Regions from separate parts of the Homo sapiens genome. Here all the other regions are linked to region 2. Evidence: fine-mapped expression QTL. A gene starts in region 2. Each other region holds a variant in brackets. All regions are shown on one strand. Distances are between the middles of the regions. Region 1 has its middle 35 kb from the start of TSPAN17. Region 2 holds the start of TSPAN17 (tetraspanin 17). Region 3 overlaps LOC124901144 (a long non-coding RNA gene).

Region 1 (10,393 bases), 33 kb after region 2:
AGGTTAAACATTGTCTAGCTGTGGAGGACAGAAGAATATAAGGAACTAAGGGAGAGGGCTCTCCTGGGCTGGGTGGGGGTACGCCTGGGGAAGGATAAGCCCCCAGGGGCAGCTGCAGCTCTGATCTCGGGATTGGTGGGGCTGAACCTCATTTCCTGGGAGGGGCAAGGTCCCCAGGTGCCCTGTGCCCTGAGAAGGCCAGGAGACTCTAGACAGGGAGTGAGCGGTGGTGGCTCAACAGAGGGCCTGTGACAGCCCAGCGAGCTCCCCAGCCCCAGTGCCCTGTAGGGAGCGGCCAAGTTCTCAAGGAGGGCCTGGAAGGGAGTCCCAGTTGTGACAAGAGGAGGCCACAGCCAAAACTTGCTTGGCCCTTACAAGCAGAGACCAGATGGGGACGCAGACAGCTCATCGGCTGCCAACTCGGAACAGAGATGACAGCCAAGAACCACATGTCCCAGTGTATGTCTTGGGGGTGCCAGCAGGGATGACATCGACCGATGACCCATCTGCCACCTCCCCTGATGTTTATGATGTCACCCATATTTGCTGGGATCTGTGGGGTCCAAGAGATGGGGGAGGGGGCCCTGAATCTTCTGAGTTGAAGCTGACAGAGCTGAACTGAACTCAAGACTTTTCTGCTACTCAGTAGAAAACGGAGGTTGGAAAGGAAGCATGCATATAGTAGGAAAGTAAGGTGGTGGTTTTGGCACACCTGCGTGAGTGGCCTGAACATTCACACCCACAATCCAGGGCTGAATGAGGGACAGTGAATGCAGCCTTTGGTGGGGTGGCTCTTCCTCCCCGTCCCTGGTCATGTGATGGGCACTGGTGTGTACCTGAGCATTTCCTCCTCGCTCTCCCTCCTGGGGGTAGGTGTCAGGGGAACAGAGAGGGCTGGGTGAGTGGTGAACACAGCCATCTATCTTCCTGCTCCCCAAGTCCCCCTTTGGTGAGGATGTTGCCAGGAGCAGGCAAGAGCTGGGAGGGCAGGTAGTGATGACTAGGAAGGAAAGAGGCAGTCCCGGGTGCCTGGGTGACCTGGTGGCCAGAGGAGAGGGAGAGGCCTGGAGGAGGCTGGGACAGAGGAAGGCTCAGAGGAGGCACTGGGCGGTGGTCAGCAGACTTAAGAGCCAGAATCCACTTCCGGTTCCTGGGCATATTCCCTAAGCAATCGGAGCCTCCGGTCCTCACCCCAAACAAGGTGGGCTCCACATGTCTGCCTGGCCCACATCTTTCTCCTTCCTGGTTCTCACTTGGGAAACCTTCATCTCCCAGTAGTTTAGGCAGTGCTGACCCTGGCCTCTGGCTTCAGGCCTGGCCAATGGGGCTATATTCTTGCACCCTTGTTGGAACTGTTGGCCGAGGGAAGCTGGCTGTCTGCCAAGATGGCTGAGCTGAGCAGTGAGCGCCCGTGGGCCCCTCCTTGCTGATCTCCCCAAGCTGGGCCCAGGCCCCTGCCAGGCCCTTTGCACCTGCTGCTCACTTCCCTGGGGTGCCTTCTCCTCTGACCTTCACCTTCAGCTCCTCTCATCTGAGGCTCAGCCCAGTGGCCCTACTCAGAGAGGCCAACTTGGCTCCCTTTAAAGCAGTCCCCAGTCCTGTCCCAGGGCCTTCCCTATGTCTGCGTTTCTTCCCAGCACTCACCACCATCCGAGATGAGCTCCTGAGCTACTTTAACTGACCATCTCCTCCTCTGATATCAGCCGCCAAGAGCAGGGACCTTGTTGCGCTCCTTCCCAAGCCAGGGCCCAGCACAGAGCAGAGGCTCAGCAGTCCCTGCCTGGACACCGAATGCTACTGAGAACTCTGTGCCTGGTGTGGGGCAGAGTCTCCAAGGTCACAAACCCATCTTGGGGGTGCAAAATCCCTGCTAAGGTTTTCTAAAACAAAACTTAATTTCTGTCTTGAGTCCCCATTAGAGTAAATTCAGGATAAATTTGGCCCATTTTGGGGTGTTCTTGGTCCATTTGTGGTTGCACTCAGGTGGAGGAGGGACCCAGGAAGGGTCAAGGCCTCGAGTGGGGCCAAACTCCCCAGACATCTGTGTGACCTCAACGCTGCACCCACAACCCAGGGGTCTCTGCCTTCCACACTGGCTCCACATAGTCCTCCGTCCTGCCTGGTACAGGATCCATCCCTGCCGCATGCCCCTCTTAGACCACCAGGGTCCCCCGTCACGTCCCAGGACCAATCTGGTGACCCCTCTGCTTCAAGACATACATTCTGCCTCAGTGGGGGCACATGGGGACTCTAAGTTACCCCCATCCATTCTGTCCAGGCCCCTCCCACAGGAGTTAGGAGGGGCTGTCTTGGTGGCTGGTGACCTGATGAGTGGGTGTCTCCGTGGGCCCCACTGCTCCCCTCCGAACATCCCCCTGCCTGGGATCCCCAGACTCCTTACAGGGCCAGGCTAGCTCCTCTCCCTGTCACCCTGGGGCTCTGCCAGCTACCAGGCAGGAGGCTGTCAACACCGGGAGGAGGACATATCCGAGGCATCTCGGACGCCAAGCGTGAGTGAGCAAGGCTCGTCCTGCTAAGGGTCTGGGGACGTGACTGGGTGTGCAGAGGAAGAGAGAGGCCAGGCTCAGGCTTCATCTTGTTTAATCCGTGGAGGACCTAGGGGATCCCTGTTTAGACCCCTGCAGGCTGCAGTGCCGCTCTGCTCCGGCCTTAGCGCCTCCCCGCAGCTCAGAGGATGGGACTGGGGTCCAGCTCCCTGCCCGCCCCGCACCCCGTACCCCGCAGCCTGTCCGTCCATCCGCCCCGCTTCACTTCGCTGTCCCCTGTCGGGGTTCGA[G/T]TCGCAGCCTCCAGCCTCAACCCGCACCTCCCGCCCTGCAGCTCAACTCTCGCCTCCGCTGCAATTTATTACTGGAGGCCGCAGAACCAGCGGCGTGGAGTGCGCCTCCCGGGAGCCGCCGCTGTCGGAGAAAGGCACCCACCCGCCTGGGCCGGCTCCCGGGCGCGGGGCGGTGTCTCAGGGAGGCGTCTCAGCCGAGCTGCAGGGCGAGGGGAGCGAGCCGGGTCCCGGGGGAAGGCATCCGGTCAGGGCCTCGCCCACCCGGATGGCTCCTGCGCCACGGGGCCTGAGCTCCGCCTTTGGGATCCGCGAGGATTGGAGACTGGGGACCCGGCAGCAGAGGGTCCAGGCAGAAAAGCTCCGTGTGGCCCCCAGGGAGGGTGGATTTAAAGAAAACCAGTCACATTAAAAAGCCAGGGTTCATGGAAATACTTGGACTGCTGGCTTCTCCTGAAAAACGGGCAGTCGACACCGGGTGGCCTTCCACAAGGCAAACCTGGGGGGCAGCCCCGTTTAGAAGGCCCGGCTGCCCTCTTCAGTCACCCAGCGCCTCGCCAGACCCCAGGGGACATTGGGGCTTGAGACCCCTGCTCTGCGTGGGGCACAGCAGAGGCCAAGGGAGACTGTGGCCCAGCTGTTCCACGGGCTTCTGGAGGCCAAGGACTCTCTCTTTTTGTTTTTATCTTTGTATATTACTCTGGTACATAAAGGCTGGCATATAAAAGTGTTGAATAAATAAATTTTCAATGAACAGCTGAATGAATGATGATGGTGATGAATGAATGAATGGATGGTGATGACTACCCAGAATTATAATCAAGTGGATGAGACTCAACCACTTGAAAAGGTGAGTCCACATTGCAGGCCAAGGAAGCAGAGGTGCAGAAGCTGGGGGCCCCTGAAGGAGTCCAGGGCACTTGGGGTGGAGTGGGGACCAGGGCAGCGTGGCTGCCCAGGGGTGGCAGGAAGGCCAGGCTGAGGGGCTGGAATTTGAGCTTCCTGGCTGCTTTACTATCCAGTCACCTGAGCTTTAAACACCCCAAGTCTGGGGCCACCCTCCAGGCCCAGGAAATCAGACTCTTCACCGGTGGGTGGGGCAATCTGTGCTTTAAAAATGTTGCCGGTTGGGCGCGGTGGCTCACGCCTGTAATCCCAGCACTTTGGGAGGCGGAGGCGGGCGGATCACGAGGTCAGGAGATGGAGACCAGCCTGGCCAACATGGTGAAACCCAGTCTCTACTAAAAATACAAAAATTAGCCGGACAGGGTGGCGCGCGCCTGTAATCCCAGCTGCTAGGGAGGCTGAGGCAGGAGAATCGCTTGAACCCGGGAGGCGGAGCTTGCAGTGAGCCGAGGTCGTGCCACTGCACTCCAGCCTGGCGACAGAGACAAACTCCGTCTCAAAAAAAACCAAAAAAGTTCTCCCAGGAGATTTTGGAGCCCCCAAAAGCTGCATGGCGGGGAAGTGATTATCTGCCACGGGTCTGCTGCTGCATCCATCCCTCTTCCTGTCCCGCCTCCCAGGGCCGGGTGTCTTTCTAAAGCCACGGGTCACCTTTCTGAGTGGTGGTCAGGCCCTGGGGGTCCATCTTAGCCACTCACCGTATTTTAAGTAAGTTTTAGAGGGAAGGAAAAGTATGAAATGACTGTGTTTGTTTTGCCCAAGCAAATCCATTTATAAAGTGCAGCACTTGTTTAAGAAAAAAACAACAGCTATTGACAAAATATAAGAAAATAAATTAAAGCCGCAGCTTCTTAAAAGGACCCTGTCCGATAATTTGATTTTTTCCCCCTTCTTCCCTCAAAGGCCAGAACGACACAATCAATCTTGCTGTTCCATAGGCTGTCTCATTACAGCTTTTTCTTAAGTGGAAAAAGAAAAAGAAAAAGAAAAAGAAAAAGAAAAAAAGTGGAAAGAAACTGAGTGCCATCTACAGCACCATCACCTCCTGCCCTACAGTAGATCCGCAGGGACCCTCTGTCTCCCCTGCCCCAGCCTTCTTGTCCTGCTGTAGCCCAGCTCTGACCCCCACCCTACCCCAGCTATGCCCTCCAGATGGGACCAATCAACTGGTCTTAGATGAGACTGGTCAGCTCAGAGGCCTTCCCGCCAAATCTCATGACCCATAGACTCTGTGGGGATCCTATCTTAAGTCGTCAAGTGGGTCAGTCATCAAATTTCTCATCCTGACAGCCTCATCCAAATAACTGACATTTTTCATGAGTAAAATACATAGCAGAACGCAGGTGTGCTGAGGGCTTTGCACACCCGGGTGAAACCCCTCTGCATGCAGCACTTTGCTTCCAACATAATGCAGATCTCAGGTGGAGGAGCTCCCACCACCTCCACCTCCTTATACGACCCTCTTCCTCAAATGTTGCCCTGCGTGGTTACCATCCATCCCGTCAGCCACACACACTGGGTGCCTGCCCAACATTGATGGCACTCTGATCATCCCCCACGATGAGGACAGGTAAGGTTTTTAGGGAATAAAACCAGTTTTAAAAGGCAGTCCCACCTGTGTTTAGATCCAAGGCCATAGCATGTCCTTGGCCAGATCACTGCCTCCCTGTGAGTTTCTCCATCCAGAGAGCGAGGTCAATAACACCCAGGGGTGGTTGTGAGGATTGAATGTGCAGCCATATGTAATCATCATCATCATACTTTATAATCGAGCACTTGCTCGTTGCCTGATCCTGAGTCATCATTCCTTTCTGACATTATCAGATTAAGTCTTCAGTTCATATTATTTGCCTTACTTTACAGGTGAGAAAACAGACATGCAGAGAGGTTAGGTTAATTGCCTTTGGTCTTATAACTAATAAGAGGGAAGGGTTTTTTATTGTGGGGGGTTTTCTAGAACCTGTGCCCCCCTTGCTTGTTAGTCCCCGTTTCCCTCTGGAAAGTTCCCCACCAAGTGTGGTCTTTGAGGAGAGCAGTGATGGTGCTACCTCTCACAGTGGAAGCTCTAGGGCAGCTTGTCCCAGGCTGTGGGGCCAGAAGTAAACTCAGCTGAGACCCTCAACCAGTCTTCAGTCCTTGGTGCTCTCAGATTTGGTCCCCCAGCCTCCGTGGATTCAGATAACCCCAAATTTACCTTCCCTTTTTGCTTAATATGGGCAGAGTCTCTCTGTAGCTTGCAACCCCAGGACTCTGCTTGCAACAAAATGAGTAATAATAATAATATACCAAAAGTAGCTATTATTTCTTGAGCATTTATTATGTGCTAGGTCTTGAGATAAAGAGCTTTATAGATGTTACGGTGTCTCAACCTTGCTACCTCATACAATTGTCCCTGTTTTACAGGCAAGAAAACTGAGGATCATATACATTTGGATTCTTGCCTGGCATCACACAGCTGGATGGAGGGCCAGGGGCTCAAACCCTGAGCTGCCTGAGCATAAGTCTGTGAGCATAAAACTCTGTTGGTGTGCCTGACATAAGAGGCGCTTACTCGGTGATGGCTTTAGCACCATGTATGCATGCACTGGGTCTGTTAAAAATTAGTGGGGAGGTTCTAGTTGGAGGTAAGATGAAGTAGACACACTCCACCTTGTCTCTCCCACAAAATGCAGCTTCAAACCTGGACTAATTGCATGAATTACCTCCTTTAAGTCTCTGAAAAAAAGACCAGTTATCAAAGTAACACCAAATTGGTGGTAAGTTTACTATTTTTCCCCCATCCAATATCCCCTGAATTGAAACCCCTGAATTCAATGCAGCCAAAAACCTTGAAGTGGATATCAGCATCTATAGAGAGATCTCCAGGGAAAACCCTCTGATTCTGGCTTCGGGACCAAGAAAGGGGTCTTCCACTGCTCCCGGTGAGTGAAGAAGCCTCCTATTTTTTTTTCTTTTTCTCTTTTTCTATTCTCTCCTGCCACAGCCCCTAAGCAATGATGTGGCAGTAGCACTAGCAACAGTAGCAACAGCAGCAGCGAAAGCTGGCGGGAACCTAAAACTCTAAGGAAGGGGAATTTTCCTCTCCAGTTGGAGGAGCCGTGGTCCATGAAGGTGGGGCAAACCCCTGCTGCTTTGCTATCTCTGGTGCTTGGGCTCAACTCATACAGTCACAGGAAATGCATGGCAGAGGAGAAATAAAGCCCCAGATTTCTGGCCCAAGCACTGGACAAGGGGAACCTCAGTGAACCAGAAAGTATAGGAGAGATCTCAGAGAGAGAAGAGCTGGAAAAAGTGATCCCTTAAAGTTGTTTGTGAAATCCTGGGCTCCTTCCCAAAATGTGCATGATCTGTACAGGATTAGACCTTAAACTGCATACTTGAGAACTGAACTACGGGATAGTGCACTGCTCAAATCCCAGATTAGCCATGGGGTGGTACATACGGGGCAGATTCAAATAGTGAAATAGCAAAAAAATAAAATAAGTAATAAAAAAATGAATAAATAGCAAAACTTTGTAAATTGAACTGACATTGGAACCACAGGCCACAGGAGGCTGTTGGGAACTTATGACCTGAACTCACCTGGATCATTTGCCTGCTAACAGAAAAATACCAAAAATTTCTCTATATAGAAAGAACCAGGAGTGGCTGGGCACAGTGGCTCATACCTGTAATCTCAGCACTTTGGGAGGCCAAGGTGGGTGGATCACCTGAGGTCAGGGGTTTGAGACAAGCCTGGCCAACATGGTGAAACCCCATCTCTACTAAAAATACAAAAATCAGCTGGGTGTGGTGGCGTGTGCCTATAATTCCAGTGACTCAGGCAATTCCAGCTATTCAGGAGGCTGAGACGGAGAATCGCTTGAACTAGGGATGTGGAGGTTGCAGTGAGCTGAGATTGTGCCACTGCACTCCAACCTGGGTGACAGAGCAAGTCTCCATCTCAAAAAGAAAAAAAAAAGAACCAGGAAAGGCTCAACTCACTCAGGAAAAGATGCCAATGCTGAGGCTACTTTGCTGAGATATCAGACTTTACAGCATCTATTATGAAAGTGGTGCAATGTGTAAGAGCAAACACTCTTGAAATGAATGGAAAGTCTCAGCCAAGAAACAAGATACCAAGAAGAACCAAGTGGAAATTTAGAACTGCAAAAGACAATAACAAGAATCTCCCTGGATGGGCTCAATAGCAAAATGGAGATGATAGAGGAAGAATCCAGTGAACTTGAAGATAGATCAATAGAAGTCATCCAATTTGAATGACAGGCAAAAAAGAGTGTTTAAAAAATGAGCAGAACTTCAGGGACCCATGAGGAAACACCAAAAGTTCTAACATTCTTATCATTTGAATTCTGGAAGGAGAGAAGAAATAAATAGGGTCTGGAAAAAATATGTAAAGAAATCATGGTGAAAATTTTCCAACTTTGGTGAAAAACATAAACCTACAGATGTAATAAGCTCAGTGAATCCTAAACAGAAGAAACCCAAAGAAATCTGTGACCAGAAAATCATAATCAAACTTCTGACAATGAAAAATGAAGACAAAATCTTGAAAGCAAGCCCAAAAAAATGACACATTTCCTATAGGGGAAAAATGATTCAAATGACTCTGGATTTCTCATCAGAAACCATGAAGGCCAGCAAAAGTGGAACGACAGTTTTAAGGTGCTTAAACAAAACAAAACAAAATAAGAAAAGAACTGTCAAATCATAAGTCTTTAGAAGAAATACCTTCTGGATGAAGGTAAAATAAAGACATTTTCAGATGAAGGAATGCTAGGAGGATTTGTTACTGGGAGACTTGCACTAAAAGACTGCTACAACAAATTCTTTAGACAGAAAGAGATCATAGTAGAAGGAAATGTGTAACATCAGGAATAAATGGAGAGCAGAGGAAATGGTAAATATTTGGATAAATATAATAGGCTATTTTTTCTCTTGTTGAGCTCTTTAAAATATGTCTGACGGTTAAAACAAACAAACAAAAAAACATTGTGTGGTAGGGTTTTCAGTGGCTGTAGATGTAATATAGAAGACAAATATAACATAAAAGGGAGAGGATAAAGGGACCTACACAGCAGTAAGTTCTTTACACTTCACATGAAGTAGACTGAGAAGAGTTAAGTATGTCTATTGCATTTTCTAGAACAACCTCTAAAAAAACTATTCAAAGAGATATAGTAAAAAGTTAAATAAATAAATTAAAATCAAATACATTCATAGGAAAACAAATAACTTAAGCCTTACATTTTACACAAAAATTAACTCTATTTTTTCTTTTTTGAGGAAGGGTCTCATCCTGTCTCCTAGGCTGGAGTGCAGTGGTCAATCACAGCTCACTGCAGCCTTGACCTCCTGGGCTCAGATGATGCTCCTACCTCAGCCTCCTGAGTAGCTGGGACCATAGGTGTGCTCCACCATGCCTGGCTATTTTTTTTTTTTTTTTTTTTTGAGATGGAGTTTTGCTCTGTCACCCAGGTTGGAGTGCAGTGGCGCGATCTCGGCTCATTGCAAGTTCCACCTCCCGGGTTCACGCCATTCTCCTGCCTCAGCCTCCTGAGTAGCTGGGACTACAGGCGCCTGCCACCATGCCCAGCAAATTTTTTTTGTGTGTTTTTAGTAGAGACAGGGTTTCACTGTGTTAGCCAGGATGATCTCGATCTCTTGACCTCATGATCCACCCGCCTCGGCCTCCCAAAGTGCTGAGATTACAGGTGTGAGCCACCACGCCCAGCCATGCCTGGCTAATTTTTTATTTGTAGAGAAGGGGTCTCACCATGTTGCCCATGCTGGTTGGTCTCAGACTCCCTGGCTTAAGTGATCCTCCTGCCTTGGCCTCCCAAAGTGCTAGGATTACAGGTGTGAGCCACCATGCCAGACCTCAAAAATGGACTCTAAATAGATTATAGATAAAACTTTTGAATGGAAACATAGAAGGTCATCTTTATGACCTGTGATTAGACAAAGAGTTTGTAGGCATGCTATTAAAAACAGTCTATAAAAGGATAAATCGAGTTTCATCAAAATTAAAACTTTTGCTTTGAGAAAGAGACTGTTAAGAGAATAAAAAGACAAGCTATGGACTTGGAGAAAATATTTACAAACCACATATCCAACAAGAGATTTGTATTCAGAGCATATAAAGAACTGTCAAAACTTAACAGCAATGTCACGGAATCTTTGGGGTGTCACTTTCTGGCCTGAAACCTCTGGCGGTGGTGCCTTTGCCCAAGTTTTGCTCAGGCCCACTGGCTTGTTCCACCCACTCGGCCTGGCAGGCTGCACTCGGCTCACACTACCAGCCTGGATCCCACATCTGCCAAGGACGAGTCAGGCGTGGAGCGGTGAGGGGTGTGTGAGCAAGTGTGGGGTCCCGCCTCTGTGCAGTCAGACACACCTGCAGTGGGGAGGGCAGCACAGGTGCCGGCTCTCTGTGAGGCTGTGGCTGGACCAGGTGCATTGCAGGTAGCTTCCCCGGCTGGCACTGGGAAATGCAGTGGCACCCAGAAGCTTGGAGATTCCAGGCACTGCAGGACCCCAAAGAGGGAGTCACAGCCCTAGCTCAGAGAGGCCTCCCAGGTCTGGGCTCCCTAAAGGGCTGCAGGTCTTCTCTCCTCTTCGCCTGCAATGTGGTGAGCAAGGGCCGTGTTTCAGCCCTGTTCATGTTATAGCTCTTTTAGCTCCACCATTTGG
Region 2 (8,433 bases):
TGCCATCTGCCTTGCAGGATGGCATCCAGCCCATGTGGGAGGACAGCAGGAATAAACGGGGTGGCCGCTGGCTGGTCAGCCTGGCCAAGCAGCAGCGCCACATTGAGCTGGACCGGCTGTGGCTGGAGACGGTGAGTTGGAGGAGGAGGGTCCTCAGGGGAAGAGACGGGCTGTGTGGGTCTCATGGTGGCAGTGGTCTCAAGGATGGCAGGCCAGTCCCTATGTCCCAGCCGGTGATCTCACAACCCCCTACTTCGGGTCCAGCTGCTGTGTCTGATCGGGGAGAGCTTTGAGGAACACAGCAGAGAGGTATGTGGGGCCGTCGTCAACATCCGCACCAAGGGGGACAAGATCGCTGTGTGGACGAGGGAGGCGGAAAACCAGGCGGGCGTGCTGCACGTTGGGTGAGGAGGGTCTCTGGCACAGGGTGGGGACTTGGGTCTCTGCTAGAGGGAAGGTGGGTGGAGGGGGCTTGGCCTGCATGGGAGACCTCTGAAAGTCTCCATAGCCTCCCTCCCTTCTGCCTTGCCCACCTGTATGGAAGGTCTGGCGTTCAGATTTCTAACTTTCTCTTACGGCAGTGCAGCTCTCCTTTTGCATTAAGGGGGTCATATTTTGGGTTTCCACATGGGTAAGACACAACAGGTGTGGCTGTGGCCAGAATGAGGGTAGGAGTCTGGTGGCCTAAGTTATCTCTAGGACCCTCTGATGACTACCTGTGTCTCTTTTCCTCTGTGTCCCCCGCACCTGCAGGCGTGTATACAAAGAGCGCCTGGGCCTCTCCCCAAAGACCATCATTGGGTACCAGGCCCATGCAGACACAGCCACCAAGAGCAACTCCCTAGCCAAGAACAAGTTTGTGGTGTGAGGGGGGCCTTGGCACCCCTCCTATGTAATGGGACAGCCGCCACTGAGCCTCATTACTTTGGGGGATGGGGCGGGACTGGGGATCAGACAGCCTAGTTCTTACCTGTCCTCAAGTGAACAGGAATGCAAACACTCTTTAACATGAGTTGGGGCCTGAGCCTTAGGGGCTAGATGGGGGTAGTGGTGGCAGTCTGAGGACCTAGCTTGTCCTGGGGCCACAGGACAGCAGCAGGGTGGAAAAAACTCCTGAGGGTGGGGTGAGTCATGGCGGGGAAGGAGGGCTCTATGGTAGGCGGAGAAACCCATAGTCCAGCGTTTACTGTTTCCACCCAGGAAGGAGGTGAGGTGGCCTGAGAGACAGACTCTTCCATGGGTGGTGGGCTCAAGGGCACAGACATTCTGGAGGGTGAACGCCATCATTTGTACAGAGGGATACGTGGGTTGCTGAGGACTGAGAGAGCCTTGCAAGGCCGCTCCCCTTCTCCCCAGCTGTGACCAGGGCTGTCTGGGCCTTGCCTGCCTCAGGGCCAGACTGAAGTGGAGGTGGAGGGATGCTGGGCTAGGCCTCACCAAGGTTCTGGTAGAAGTGGTGGAAGTGGATAAACTTGATAATAAAAGCTTAAGCATCTTTCTGTTCCTGTTTTAAATAAATACTTCTGAACAAAGTTGGAATTATTTTTAAGAGGGCTTCAAACTGGAGTAAGATTCAGGTTCCCCCAAACTTTGATCTGCCTCTGTCCTGTCTTACAGGGGCTCATGTGAGATCACTGGGTACCAAGGAGCCTGACCGGGACCCTGGCCAGTATGGAGGACAGGGGGTGTGGCTGGGGAAACTCAGCCACCAAGGGGGCTTGAGCCAGGTTCCGGGGGGCATATGCCCCTGGCAGGGCGCAGCCGGCGTGGCACCAAGGCCCAGGCCCTCGTTTGGCCTGAGTTTGAGTCAGGATAAGTAGAGCTGGATTTCCGCTGGGTGAAGGTGAGCCTGATGCGACTCCACAATGACAAAACGTCCTGCACGTGTTAAAAACTCAATCCGGACCAGCTTCCCCATTCGCCTGCCAGAGCAGCAGTTAACCTTCCCCTGGGATGGGCTCCAACAGCAGGCTGGGGATTGGGATGGCGCTGGTACCCAGCAGGGGAAGCAAGGCTTCTACACCCCGGCGGCCTCCGGCGCCATCAGCCGGCGTCCCGGGCGGGTCTGCAGGACGCTGGGAAACGCGGCGGCGGCCTGCGCGGGGGCGGGGCCTGGCCGAAGGCGGGGCTGCGAGGAGGTCCGAATCAGGCTGTGGGGGCGGAGCTCGGGAAGCGGAGCCAGGTCCAGAGGCGGGGCTCAGGCGGGACTGAGTTGATCTATGGGGGCGGAGCCAGGTCAGGAGGCGGGACTCCAAAGGGACTGAGGGCTGTGGGGGCGGGGCCCGGTCCAGAGGCGGGGACAGCAGGGCTCCGGGCAAGGAGGTCTGGATGCTGAGGGCGGTCCCTGAGGGGCGGGCGGGGCCCGACCGGCGCTCTGTGTGGCCGAGGCCATGAAGCCGCAGCCGCCCGGCTAGGCCCCGGGCGGCTCTAGCCCAGGGCGGCCCGCGGGGCGCTGGGCCTGGCTCCCGGCTCCGGTTTCCGGGCCGGCGGGTGGCCGCTCACCATGCCCGGCAAGCACCAGCATTTCCAGGAACCTGAGGTCGGCTGCTGCGGGAAATACTTCCTGTTTGGCTTCAACATTGTCTTCTGGGTGAGCGCGGGGTCTGCGCCTTGCCCTGTGCTGGGGGGTGGTGGGAGAGGGAGATTCAGTCTTTTGCTGGGGGAGACCACTCCCTGCCCCAAGAGTTTGGAGCTCGGGACCATCCCCCCACTTCTGCCACACCCACGCCCACTTCCAGGACCACCCGAGGTAGCTACAGAGGCCCGGATTGCTGGGGGCGGGTCCTAGCGACAGCGTGGGGTCGGGGTTGGGGTAGGGAGTCTCCCTAAATAATCCCGAGGCCTGGTGGAGAAAGGGAAGGTGTTTCCTTGAAGACCCCAGGGGCGTGCTAGGTGCAGGTTGCCCCCTCTCGCCCAGCCCTCCTTCCTACCCTGGGATGTGGGATGCGTGCCAAGCCCCACCCCTGGTTTAGCCGGTAAGGAGATTCTGGCGTGAAGGGAGCCGCCAGGCCCCTTCCCCGGCCTCCTTTCCCTTCCAGTAGTACCTGGGTCAGGTGCCTCACCTTAGGCTCCTGCAGAGTGGGGTGGGTCACAGTCCTCTGCCCACCCCAGTCCCGCACAAGGAGGCTGACCTGCCAGGAGGGGCAGGGAGGGACAATGGCGAGTCCTTGGCGGCTGGGAGAGGATCTCCCCGGTTGAGAGCCTGGGAGCTGGCCTTGGGGAACAGAATTCAACATTCCACAGCTGACAAGCTGAGGCTCCTGGGCGGGTCTGCCCCTACCGGGGAAGGGAGCTACTAGTGCCCCTCCCAGGGTGGCATCTGTCCCCCTGGGCCCTGCCAGGTCATTTTTCCCATCTCTCCAAAGCCGTGGCCCTCTGCAGTCTCTGCTCCTGAGGCCTTGGGTCAAGATGCCAGGCCTTTTCCCTTGTGTTCAGCAAGACTCAGTGGCACTGCCCCCCACCCACGTGTCACCGAGCTCACTGGTGTGGTGGGTGTCCTTGCACTGCAGCGCTAGGCTCTTGAGGGTGTGGGCAGTGTGTGGGAGCACTGGCAAAGAAGTCAGAAGGCCTGGCTGTAGCAGGCCTGGCTGGGACACCTTGGGCAAGTCATCTCTCCTCTCCGGGCCTCAGCTTGCCTGCCTGGGAGACGACGATAAAGAATCTGCCTGTGAGGGCTGTTAGGCAGATACAATGAGTTCAATTTGTTGTATTCTCACAACTGCCTTATTATCTGCATTTTACAGATGGGGAAACTGAAGGAATAGACACAGAGAAATTAAGTCACTTACCTAGGGTCACACAGCCAGAAAGTACAGAGCCAAGGTGACGGCTTAGTGGGCAGAGGGTGGAGGTGAGGCAGAGCTGTGAGCAGAAGTAACCTCAAATACCGAGGGGGAGCAGGCGTGAGAGACCCGGGTTTGTTGCTGGGGCGGAGCGTGGGGTGTTATGTTAAGGTGGCATGGAGAAGCGAGGGCTTCCAGTGATGGGTCTGATCTGGCTTCTGTTCTGGAGACCGCTTGCCTGGCTGCTGTGTGGAGGGTGGATGAGGGGCAGGGCCTGGAGGTTTGGAATGGGGGCAGGGCTGGGGCAAAGCTGGGATGGTGAGGTGGGAAAGGTGAGGGAGGTTGCTGGGAAAGTCAAGAGGCTGAATTGACTGGGCTGGGTCACTTGGGGGCTGGAGGGAGGATTTCAGATTTGGGTTAAGGTGGCCTAAGGGAGGCTGCTTGTGGAACAGGCACAGAGGTTTTCATGTTTAATGTCAGGCAGACCCTGGTGTTGTTCTGTTTGGAAACTGCTTGTGGTTTCCTTTTTTCTTTTTTCTTTTTTTTTTTTGAGACAGAGTTTTGCTCTTGTTGCCCAGGCTGGAGTGCAATGGCACGATCTCGGTTCACTGCAACCTCCGTCTCCCAGGTTCAAGCGATTCTCCTGCCTCAGCCTCCCAAGTAGCTGGGACTATAGGTGTGTGCCACCACGCCTGGCTAATTTTGTATTTTTACTAGAGATGGGGTTTCTTCATGTTGGTCAGGCTGGTCTCGAACTCCTGACCTCAGGTGATCCACCTGCCTTGGCCTCCCAAAGTGCTGGGATTACAGGCGTGAGCCACCACGCCCGGCCATCCTGCTCGTGGTTTCTTACTGCTCCTAGAGTACTGTCGGCCTCCAGGGCCCCGCGGGGCCGGGCTGTCCGCCCTTCAGTTTGTTCCTTGAACTAGACGTGGTCTTGTGTCAGGGCCTCTGCCTGTGCCCTACCCTCCTCCTGGAACAGGCTTTTCCCTCTTGCTCTTTTCATCATTCAAACCTCAGCTGAAATGCCCCCACCCTCCCTTCTGCCCTCTCTAAAGCTGGCGTCCAACCCCAGCATCCCCCATCTCGTCGCCCCGCTCGATATTTGTTAAGGGGTCTGTTTGCATCTGAGGTTTCCTTGTCTGCTCACTGACTGTCCATCTCCCCTGCTGGAGTGTAAGCTCCGTGAGGGTCGAGTCCGTCCTATTCACCAGCGAATCCCCGGCATGGCGGCGATCAGTGCCGGTGGGTCGTGGAGGTGTTTGCTGCAGGCGGGTGGACGTAGGGGTGTGGGACCAGCATGAGGTCTGGGTGGGGATCGGGAGATGCCAGCGTCATGATGGGATGGAAGACGAGCGTGAGGAGGAAGAACGGCAGAAGGCTGAGGCTGGAGGCCGTGGGACCAGCCACAGGTGGTCCCTCCAGGAACACAGCCCTCCAGGAACTCCTGCTGGAGGCTGAGAGCTCACTTCCCAGCTGTTTTCCCAAAGTGCTTTAATTGTATTTCCTTGGCTCTGATTGGCTGCCTCTGGACCAATCCCCGGGGCAGGTGAAGGCGGAGCATCCTGGGAAGGAGCTCGGGGAGGAATGGGGTTGAGTTAACTGAGGTGGGGTTCAGGAAGGAGAAAGTGGCACTCAGTCCCCTGTCTGAAGGCCAAGGGCAGGCCAAGTGGGAGGAGGCAGGAGAAGTGATGTTTGGTTTCACATCAGCAGACCCAGCAGGCAGGAGGGAAGGGAAGATGTTTCCAGAGAAAGAATAGAGCAGTGTGGGGAGCCCACGGTCAGGGAAGGGAAGGTGATAAAGGCCTTGGCCGTGGCTATGTGCTGAGGGGAAGGAGCCTGCAGATAAAGCAGGTGGGTGGGGAGGTCGCAGGAGGTGGGGTCATGGCCCTGGGCTTGGGTACGACAGCCTTTCCCCCTCTGAGACTGCACGCCCAGGGACCTGCCCAGGGTCAGGTGTGAGAGTGACCAGCCTGGACATCCAGGGCTCTTCCCAGTAGGGAATTGAGGCAGGAAGGTGGGAAAGCTGAGGATGGAGGAGAGGCACTTGGACTGCCCCGGTGGGGAGTCTAGCTGGTGTTCTGAAGGCCCAGGCAGAGCTGTGGCCATGGGGCAAAGCCACTGGCACAGGCCAGATCCTAGGTGGATCCTGCTAGGGATGATTGAGATTCCTGTCATTCAGGGGTGTCTGGTCGTGAGCCGTGGAAGCTGACTCTGGCAGGCGGAGGTTAAAGGGGTAGGATGGGGCTGGGCTGGGGAGGAGTGTTGAGGGCGGGGCCGCAGTCACACGGCTTTAGGGTAGCAGGAGAGCTGGACTTGGCAGGGTGCAGAAAGGAGGCTAGGAGCCTGGAACCCCAGCACCAGCTTCGGTCAGGTGTAGAGGCTCAGTATACTGGCGCCGTCGCTACCCCCGCTGACACAGCTGCTATTGCTCCTTGGCAGGAGTGTCTTGGCCACCGTCTGCTCCAATTTGGAGTTCCAGGAAGGGGCCCCTGATGTCCATCCCAAGGCTAGCAGAGGGTTCAGTCCTCCAGGCTGTGTCCTGTGGGGAAGAAGCACTGGGATGTGTTCTTGGGAAGATGGAAAGGACCCCGGATCCCGTTCACAGCCCTTGTGCCTCTTCCTCTCTCCGCTGGAAAGGCCCTGGCTACCGGGGAAGGATGAGGGGGGAGGGTCCTGGGGCTGCTCCCAGCCCTGAGCTCTTTGTTGCTGCCCTTGCAGGTGCTGGGAGCCCTGTTCCTGGCTATCGGCCTCTGGGCCTGGGGTGAGAAGGTAAGGCAGCGGGCGGGCGTGGAGCTGGTATGGGACGAGGTGGTGGGAAGGTCAGCTCCCCACACCTGCCTCTGCTGCCCGGCACAGGGCGTTCTCTCGAACATCTCAGCGCTGACAGATCTGGGAGGCCTTGACCCCGTGTGGCTGTTTGTGGTAGTTGGAGGCGTCATGTCGGTGCTGGGCTTTGCTGGCTGCATTGGGGCCCTCCGGGAGAACACCTTCCTGCTCAAGTTTGTGAGTGCTGCCCTCAAGATCCCCTGGGAACCCCCATCTCCTCCCATCCAGTTCTTGCAATACAGTTGGAGCTTAATGATGGGTAGCTTTATTATTATGCTATAATCGTCATCGTTAGATTCATGTTGTCTATATTTACTAGGATCCTTTCCGTGGTATGGTAAGTGACCGAGACCTGGTGGCCCAAGCATAAAATATTTATTGACTCAAATAAGAAAAGTCCAGGGTTGTGCTGGCTGCCGGTGCATTTTGATCCAGGGGCTGCCACAGTTTCACTTGGCCTGGTTTCTCCCTGTTTCTCGGGCTCCCCCCGTTTGGCTCCATTCCCAGGTGGCAGGAGGCTCAGGAACAGAGCCGGCTTCCCCATGCCCTCCCAGGAACTCCTGCTGGAGGCTGAGAGCTCTCTTCCCAACCGTTTTCCCAAAGTGCTTTAATTGCGTTTCCTTGGCTCTGATTGGCTGCCTCTGGACCAATCCCTGGAGGCCGAGGGAGGCAGTGCTCTGATTGGTGGGCTTTAGGCACTTGCCAGTCCTGTATCTGGGACTGGTGGGTTTGGGGAGGTGTCTCCATCCGAACCTTGGAAACTAAAGGTTTGCATGGAGGATGGTTTTTCAGAGACAGCAGGGTGTGATTACCAGACAAAGGGAATTGGATGGGTAGGTAACAACAGATGCCTATTACCATCATATAACAATACTAAAATAATAGAAGGTGGGGGCTCTGGGCGCCTCTGGGTCTTGGTGGAGGTAGGGATGGAGCCCTTCCCTGTGGCACACCCAAGCCCTGGGAGGTCACCAGAGCCCTGCGTTTCCAACCCCTACTGTCTGTATGCCCAACCCCAGTTCTCCGTGTTCCTCGGTCTCATCTTCTTCCTGGAGCTGGCAACAGGGATCCTGGCCTTTGTCTTCAAGGACTGGATTCGAGACCAGCTCAACCTCTTCATCAACAACAACGTCAAGGCCTACCGGGACGACATTGACCTCCAGAACCTCATTGACTTTGCTCAGGAATACGTGAGTCCAGTGTCCAGCCTGGGACACCTGTAGGAGGCGCCTTCCTGGCAGACGAATGAGGGAGCAAGTTCCCTGTGATGGGACCATCTCCTTACCCACCTGGGCTAGCGGGCCCCAGGAGAGAGACCCAGGAGTGTCCTCGTCCGAGGAGAGCCAGCCCCTGCTGATCCTTATGGGTCCCCATTTGCCTAGTGCCATAGGGCCACGGCCTTGGGAAACAGAGGGCATGGGCTCCACGCTAGCAGCTCCCAGGCCAGGGCCTACGACACACGGGAGAATGGAGGAAATGTGACATAAAATATAGATTTCTACTTCTGCTAAACCTTGGGCCCACGGTATTGGCTGCAGCTATGTTGCTGCTGCCCCTTCACTGGTACAGAGGCTCTCTGTTTGCCATTGTTCCCAACACTCTGTATTTTATTATATCTGTCAGCCCTTATCTCTCATTTATACTATGTTTGGCCTCTGTGTATATTAGAGTTTAGACCCCTGATGGAAGGTCTGCCCTCAAACTTACAAACTTAACCCCAGTGAAGAGCAGCCAGAGAAGAGTTCCTGAAACCCTATCTGCCTCCCACCTGCACCATCTCGCCCACTCACCCCTAACCACAAACACACAGTCACACACTGTC
Region 3 (7,815 bases), 21 kb after region 2:
TGGATGTTGCTGCCACAGATCCTGTGGGCTGAGGCGTGCCCTGGACTCTCACGGGACAGGCGCTGGCAAACCAGGGGAGGGTCTCACATGAAAGGACCACAGCAGACTCGTCCCTTTGTCAGAGGAAAGAAATAGAATACTGTTTGGATTACAGATACTAGTAAAATATGATCTTGAAAAAACATTTGATAAATTACAGCAGGAATTTATAATTTAAAAAAAATCGCCAGGCGTGGTGGCTCACGCCTGTAATCCCAGCACTTTGGAAGGCTGAGGCAGGTAGATCACCTGAGGTCAGGAGTTCAAGACCAGCCTGTCCAACATGATGAAACCCCGCCTCTATTTAAAAAAAAAAATTAGCTGGGCATGATTGCGCATGCCTGTAATTCCCAGCTACTCAGGAGGCTGAGGCAGGAGAATCGCTTGAACCTGGGAGGCGGAGGTTGCAGTGAGCCGAGATCGCACTATTGCACTCCAGCCTGGGAGACTAGAGCAAAACTCTGTCTAAAAAAAAAGAAAAATCACAATTTCTTAGCAACTAGAAATAAAAGGAAATTTCTTTCACCTGATAAAGGGCACATATCAGACATATGGAAGAAACTTTATACTTCATGTTGAAACATCAGCAGCAGGAACAAGACAAGGATGCTGACTCAGTGCTACAATTCAGCACCGTCATAGAGTCCTAGCCAATGCAGTAACACAAGAAAATAAATAAGAAGGATAAAAATTAGCAGGGAGGAGACAAGGGCAGGAACCATCTCTGTCCTCTTGTTTCCAATTAAGCAGATACCTAATAAATTTTATTAAATTGGAGGAAAATTCATTGTATCCTTAAAGAAGGTTCTTGAAGGTAACAGAGCAGAATGGATCCTTTAGTAGCTAAAGTCTGAAATATTCAGTGGTCGTCAAGAAGTTCCATTGGTCATGGACCTGCCAAAAAGATAGAAGCACGATAAGACCAGAGAAGCATGAGAGAGCCCTTGGGATGCCAGGAAAATTGTTTTCAAAATAATTGGTGTTGATCCAAAATCAGGGGCATGATGTTTGGGTCGGTGGGGTCTCTGTGGCAGAGGACTCAATGGCCCCTGGATTCTGAAGTGGGAGCACGGGGCTGGGGGAACAAGCCAGGCGGTGTCTTCCAGCCAGGGGGAGCTGCAGGGAGAAGAGGAAGTCTTTTCACTCTTTGCCCTGGGATACTGAACGTCAGAATATGTTGCTGTTTTCCATGGGGTTCTAGAATATTGAGTTTAATTCCCACTTCTCGTTTATTCCCTGCCAGGTTTGGGTTCTTGATGTGTCTATGACACACTCAGGAAAGGTAGCCCCGGCTCAGGGCAAGCTGTGTGTCGGGTACCTACTGCATCTGCCTGGTCCCCATCTCTCCCCCAGCTTCTGGTGGCGGCACCTAGATTTTCCTTTGGGGAGAATCCCTCCCTCCTTGATTTCTGTTCTCCAAAGGGAGTGGCATAGGACCCAGGCCTGACATCAGCACATTCCATGGCCTTGGCTGTGGAGAGGCACAAAGGATGCCTGCTCCTGGGTCCTCACTGGGACAGAGAGGCTCCGCTCCCTCCCTTGGAGTTCTAAAAGCTGTTGGTGACCACCTTCCTGCCTGTGGTCCCAGAGTGAGGCTGACAGAGAAACATAGAGTCCAGAGAAGGTGGGCAACCTTGGCTTGGTGATGGCACTTGAGCTGTAGGTGTAGCCATATCTTATGGCAGAGCCATTGTTTTGTCTAAGGGGGTCCGAGCTGGGTTTCTGTCATCTTCAACTGAAAGTCCTGATGGACATAGTGGGAAAGAAGGGAGAAGCTGAAGGCCTGGGTCAGACATGCCCTGTCTCGGGGGTGGGGGCGAGATGCAAACCACTTCCAGATGGAGCCCAAGCTTCTTCCTCTGTCCCATAGCGCCCCTCCCAAGGGAGCTGATCCCGAGATCCCTAGAGGAGTGGAGGAATGATCAGGCATCATGCTAAGGAGTTTTTGTAAAGTCAATTTATTGAGTCTAATTTACATACATCGAAGTCTCCACACTTTAGGTGCATATTTCAGTGGGTTTTACAAATTTATTCCCCTGTGTAACCACCAAGATAGAGAACATTTCCATCACCCAGAAGGTGCCCTGTGGTCCTTCTATGTCAATCTCTGCTCCTACCCTGCTGCCAAACAAACATTGAGCTGCTTTCTGTCACTGCGGGTTAGATTTCTATTTTTTTCTCTAAAGTTTTGCATATAGTCAATCCTCAGTATTCACGGATTCCATATTTGTGAAGTTGATGACTTGCAAAAATTTATTTGTAACCCCCAGATCAATCCTCGTGGCACTTTTGTGATCATTCCTGGACATCAGCAGAGCACTGAGAAGTTTCGTTTGTGGATGCACACATTTCCTGCGGAGGTCAAACTCAACGAGCGACTTTCCCCCGTCTACTCAGGGCCACCTTTCCCGCATTTTTGTACTTTTTGTTGGGGATTTCGCTGTTGAAAATGGCCCTCAAGCATCAGAGTGAGGCCCTGGCTGGTGCTCCTTGATGCTAGAAGGCTGCGATGTGTCTTACAGAGAAAATGCATGTGTTGGATGAGCTTTGCTCAGTCATGAGTTATAGTTCTGTGGCCATGAGTTCATGCTCACAGATCAACAGCCTCTATATTAAATAAGGTGTCTTTAAACATAAGAACACATGCCACAGATGTATGCATTGGTCAGGTGACCAAAATCTTGTGAGCAGAGGATCTCAGGAACCTAACTCTGCATTTCCCTGGGAGCAATGCTTCCATACCAGTGAATTCAGTGTTCCCGGGAATGTCACAGAACATTACTGCCAGGCATGAGAGCCGGTCATATATGCAGTCATACAGATGCCACCTTTTGAGTCCGGTTTCTGTCACTTAGCATGACGCTGCTGAGATTCATCCCTGTTGTTCTTTTTGTTGCTGAGGAGTATTCCATTGTGGGGCTACGCCAGCTTCTCCATTCACTCAGCAGTTGATGGAGCATTTGGGTTCTTTCCAGTTTTTGGTGATCATGAACAAAGCTGCTGTGAACTTTCGTGTACAAATCCATGTGTGGACATATGTTTTCATTTCCATTCTAAGTGTCAGCTTAGGAGCACATACATTTATTACTTGCTTAATGCTTGCAGTAGCCCTGCAAAGCAGCCTCATTTTATGCATAAGGAGCTGGGCTCGGAGCAGAGCTATGGTGGCCTGCTGAATATCACATGGCTCACAGCAACTGGCACTGGCGCACAATCTCTTCCCTGGGGGAGGCCTGGGGGTCCCTATTCAGAGTGGCCCCATGGTGGGTGGGAGGGCCTTGGCTCTGTCATTGCCTCTCCAGGGGCCTAGAGGTCCTCAGCTGCAAAGTGCAGATTCAGTCCCCTCTGAGATCCCTGAGCTCCAAGCCTGTGATTATGGGGCCTGAGCCACAGCAGCGGGCTGCACCCCAGCCCCACTGCAGCCCTTCACAGGCTGAGCAGGGCTACAGCCAAGACTGACAGGCTGGGTGGGCTGGCTGGCTGGCTTCTAGGGCTTCAGCTGCCCTGAATACATTCCCCTGCTGGAGGTGACGCCACCGGCTTTTGCTTTGGGGGCTCATCCTCCTCTAGCATTTGCAGGGGATGAGCTGCCACCAAGGCCTTACACTCTCTGGAGGAGCTCCACATGCTGAGGGCTTGGCTTGTCTGGCCCTTCTCTATGGTGGGGCTTTGATCCCTGTGCAGAGAACTGACACAGGGACTGAGAAATGGCCAGAGCAGGCTCTAGGCAGCCTTTGCTCTGCACCCTTTCCAGGTTTCTGTGTCCCAGCCATCCAGTGAGCTGCCTGACAACCTCCCAAAGCCTCGCAGAAGCTTTCCGTTGCTTGCGCTCAGCGATCCCTGCATGCCACAGTGGATGCTCCCCTCCCTCGAGCCCCTGAGGCCTCAGCACCAGCTTGTCTCTTAGCAGGCTCTTCCCCTGGACTCCACCTCCTGCCCATCTGTTGGCTCAAGGAAGCCCTGGACTGGGGACAGCCTGGTACTTGACAGCAACTGATGCAGAGGGAAGAGCCCCAGGTCCGGGGAACGAGGACGAAGATCTGGGTGCTGAGTTGTTGCTTGTCCTCTGGGGCTCATCTTCCTCATCTCTAAAATGGGTACCATTTCCACAGTTTCATTCATTGTCATTGACCCCATCTCCTGTGGGTCCCGGCACTGTCCCTGAGGCTGGAAATCAGGGGAGGAGAGGGGCCCAGACAGGCCCCTGCCCTGATGGAGGAGAGGCAGATGCACTGTTGCAGATCTTGGAGATGACAGAGGAAGTCCCAATGCTCTGGGGACCAACTTGGGGCATTGTCCATGTTTTGGCCAGTCCTGGTACCAAAAACTGACTTTGACTACTATTTTTTTTTTTTTTTTTGACAGAGTCTCTCTCTGTTGCCCAAGCTGCAGTGCACTGGTGCAATCTTGGCTTACTGCAACTGCCTCCCAGGTTCAGGTGATTCTCCTGCTTCAGCCTCCCAAGCAGCTGGGATTACAGGCACCTGCCACCACACCTGGTTAATTTTTTTTTTTTTTTTTTTTTTTTGTATTTTTAGTAGAGATGGAGTTTCACCATGTTGACCAGGTTGGTCTTGAACTCCTAACCTCAAATAATCCACCTGCCTCAGCCTCCCAAAGTGTTGGGATTACAGGTGTGAGCCACAGTGCCCGGCCTGACTTTGACTGCCTTAATGCAAGGGGGAATTAATTGGAAGGAAAGGGCAGAAGTCAGGGCCACGCTGGGGAGCTGGGTGGTGAGAACTGAAGGAAAGTCTCTTTAGGGTGTGGCCACTCAGATAAGAAATCCTGCTGAGATTCAAAATTGCACAGAGGGGTGAGTACCCACCAGGGTGGAGGGTGGGTCTCATGACTGGCAGGCTGCCAAGCTGGCCTGCAGTGGGCTCCCCGAAATGTGGGGGAAATGCAGGGAAGGAAAAAGTCCTAAGTGTCCCCTGGTTGGGTGGAGTGGGAGAGTGGTGTCAGGTGAGGCTTGCCGGAAGCACTCAAATGCATGGGAAACAGAACTGTGAACTCCAAGGGGCAGAAACAGCAGAAGGCTTCGGCACTGTGAGCCTCAGAAGTGGCCGGCACCTACCCAGTGGCCAGCCCAGGGAAGGACTTCCCACCTGTTCTCTGATCCAGCGTCTCCACACGGGGGACACTTGTGAAGTTTACGTGGGACGAAAGAAGCCCAGCACATGGGCCTTGGCAGTCCCACCTGGCCCCACCTGCTAGGAATTTAGAAGAGAGCTGCAGAGACCT[G/A]GCACACACAAGGCTACCGTCCAGTCACTGAGGTGTGTGGCAAGGGCTGGGGAATGCCCGAAGAGGCGACCCACCTGGACGGCAGGCAGGGGCTTTCAAAGGAGGCCAGGAAGGCTGAGCAGTGTAGGGCCAAGGCTGTGGCAGAAAGGAGGGCATTCCTTGCGTGAGAGACCCTGGGTTTTGATTCTTGGGCCCTGGCTCTACCCTGTGGACCTTGGAGGGAGCAGGGGCCTGGGCAAACAGAGGTGACCTGGGGGTGCGGCAGGAAGGGGAGGGTGGGGTTGGGGAAGAGCTGTTGTGCGGGGCAGGCAGTGGGGAGGCGAGGAGATGGGGTAGGGGGTATGCAGGCCCCTGCAGGTCCTGCAGAGGACACCCCAAGGTTACCTTGGCCTGTGGCTCCGCGGCTCAAGGCTGCTGGCAGCAATGACAACAGCGAACCAGCAGCCTCTCCGAGTTTTATTATCATTCAAATGAGGACGTGGAGAGGTATTTCATTTGATTGGTAGAATAATAGGAGCCATTTATCTACCTTCTCTCAACCTTTCATATCTGTTTCACTATTTTATGGGATCGCATACATCATAGTAAAGGCAAAAATGTATTTTTTTCCCTTGACTTGGGGCTGGGGGGGGCAGCAGGGATGGGAAGGAGGCTCTCAGAGTGGCTGGCAGGAGCTGAAGGAAATGAAATCGAAAAAGACTATTATTGGTGACAGACAGTTACATCTGAAAGGGAATAAGAAACTCCCCAATGCGGGCACAGAGAGGAGTTTTAAATGGAAGATCTAACAGCCTCCAGCTCTAGGTCCATTGAGAGGCAGAGGACTGAGGGAGGCGTGAGGGGTGGGGGGCGAGACAGGGGGTGTGGCGGGGCATGGGGCGGGGGGGCTTCAGGGAGCCAGGAGGGTCCTTGAGGGAAACAGCAATGAGGCTGGCACAAGGGGCATGTGGTCCAGCTGTTGGAATTCTTTGTCTTTCTTGGGTTATGATAAATTACACGTGTCATACAAGGATCCATTCTCCTTTTGAAAACACTAGAACATCACAGGTAAAGACCCTGTGACCATCAGCCCCAATCCCAGCGCCCTCTACCCTTCCCAGAAGTAACAACTGTTAAGATTTTTTCCTCTTGATTTTACAAATATATAAAGATGCCTTAAAAGAGGTAATACTCTTTTGTGAATTCCCACCCCACCATCCCCCTCCCTTTTTTTTTTTTTTTTTTTTTTTTTGTTTTTTGGGACAAGGTCTCACTCTGTGGCCCAGGCTGGAGTGCAGTGGTGTGCTCTCAGTTCACTGCAGCCTTGACCTCCTGGGCTGAAGTGATCCTCCTGCTTCAGCCTCCAGAGTAGCTGGGACTACAGGTGTGCACCACCACACCGGCTAATTTCATTTTTAGTAGAGGCGGGGTCTCCCTGTATTCACAACCCAGGCTGGTCTTGAATTCCTGCGTTCAAGCCATCTTCCCAAAGTGCTGGGATTACAAGCATGAGCCACCACACCTGGCCCTTTACCCCTTTCTTAAAAGGTGTCACGCTGTCTCATTCAGCTCCTTGGTTTTTCTCACTGGACATATTTTTGAGCCTTGTGTGGGTCTGGGTCACTCCTGGAGCTGTCCGGGGTGCTCCTGTCTGTGATTGTCCTGTGCTGTAGCCCCCGGTGCCCCCCGATGAACCCTTGGGTGGCTTCCAGCTTTTCACAATGACAAAGAATGCTTCGAGGGGTCTGGGCAAGGCTTTCTTGAGGGCAGGTGAGCAGTGAACTCTCCGGTGGGGAGGGGTGCATTTTCAGCTGGAGGAGACACTGTCCCATTGCTGTCCAAAGTGTCTGTGGTGGGGCTGCAGCCAGCTGGCCACCGCGAGGGGAAGCGCGCAGCTGTTCTTGCACGAAGGTTCCCCATGAGGTCGTCTTGGGCAGCAAGTTGGTGGCAGAGAGGGGAACAGCAAAGCCCTGGCTGGACAGGGTGTCAGAGCAGAAGTGGGAAGGCGGGACCCACAGAGCTCCAGGGGACCCCTGGAGCTCCAGGTGCAACCCCACTGGGTGGGGGTGGGTGAGGTTCCTGGGAGGCACGCAAAGGGCAAACGGGCAAGACCCGGGATGTGAAGGCTGGCTGCAGGCTCGGGCTGGGTGAGAACCAGCAGCACTTGGTGTGGCTGGCAGGGTAGCCCGCCAGCACAGCCAAGGGGGCAGGGTAAAGGCAAAACTCAGGTCTCTGGGTGGTGCCAGCACAGGGCAGGGGTGTGCAGAGCATGGGCATAGAGAGTCCTCCAGGGGCCCTGGCTCCCTGACAGCAGCACAGAGACAGGGAGGGGGTTCCCTCCGAGCATGGGAGACAACTCAAGGCCTACCAGGTATGGGGCTGAGGCTCCCTGCTCAGGCCCCCCATCCCCCACCATGGGATGGCACTTGGTCCCAGCCCTCAGAGATGTGATGGGAGCAGGTGGGGGAAGGAGGCGGGTGGCCTGGTGGGAACTGGGCTCTCTATCCTGGGAGACTCTTAGGTTCCGGAACCCTCTTAAGAGTCCAGCTGCAA

What was found. PIP is the estimated chance that this variant, and not a neighbour inherited with it, causes the effect. A credible set is the group of variants that fine-mapping cannot tell apart.
Region 1: its variant is the best candidate, but not a certain one, in a credible set for the expression of TSPAN17 in CD4 T cells (BLUEPRINT, PIP 0.79).
Region 3: its variant is the best candidate, but not a certain one, in a credible set for the expression of TSPAN17 in whole blood (INTERVAL, PIP 0.73).

The regions. Positions count from the first base shown.
Region 1 is chr5:176,677,413-176,687,805 of GRCh38, forward strand. No RefSeq gene overlaps it. Among named protein-coding and RNA genes, the nearest start is that of TSPAN17, 35 kb to the left of the region's middle. RefSeq lists enhancers at 2,461-3,421, 3,422-4,381. The variant G/T (reference allele first, on the strand shown) is at 2,798.
Region 2 is chr5:176,645,113-176,653,545 of GRCh38, forward strand. TSPAN17 (tetraspanin 17) reads left to right here and starts at 2,372. Exons shown (of 9, transcript NM_130465.5): 1 at 2,372-2,590; 2 at 6,504-6,554; 3 at 6,642-6,788; 4 at 7,631-7,801. The coding sequence starts at 2,504. It overlaps EIF4E1B (eukaryotic translation initiation factor 4E family member 1B), which reads left to right. Exons shown (of 9, transcript NM_001099408.2): 7 at 18-131; 8 at 265-404; 9 at 754-1,532. The coding sequence ends at 868. RefSeq lists enhancers at 195-705, 976-1,270, 3,632-4,501, 4,619-6,417 and a silencer at 1,944-2,603.
Region 3 is chr5:176,666,706-176,674,520 of GRCh38, forward strand. LOC124901144 (a long non-coding RNA gene) reads left to right here. Exons shown (of 2, transcript XR_007059072.1): 2 at 1-822. Among named protein-coding and RNA genes, the nearest start is that of TSPAN17, 23 kb to the left of the region's middle. RefSeq lists enhancers at 4,895-5,460, 5,461-6,024. The variant G/A (reference allele first, on the strand shown) is at 5,284.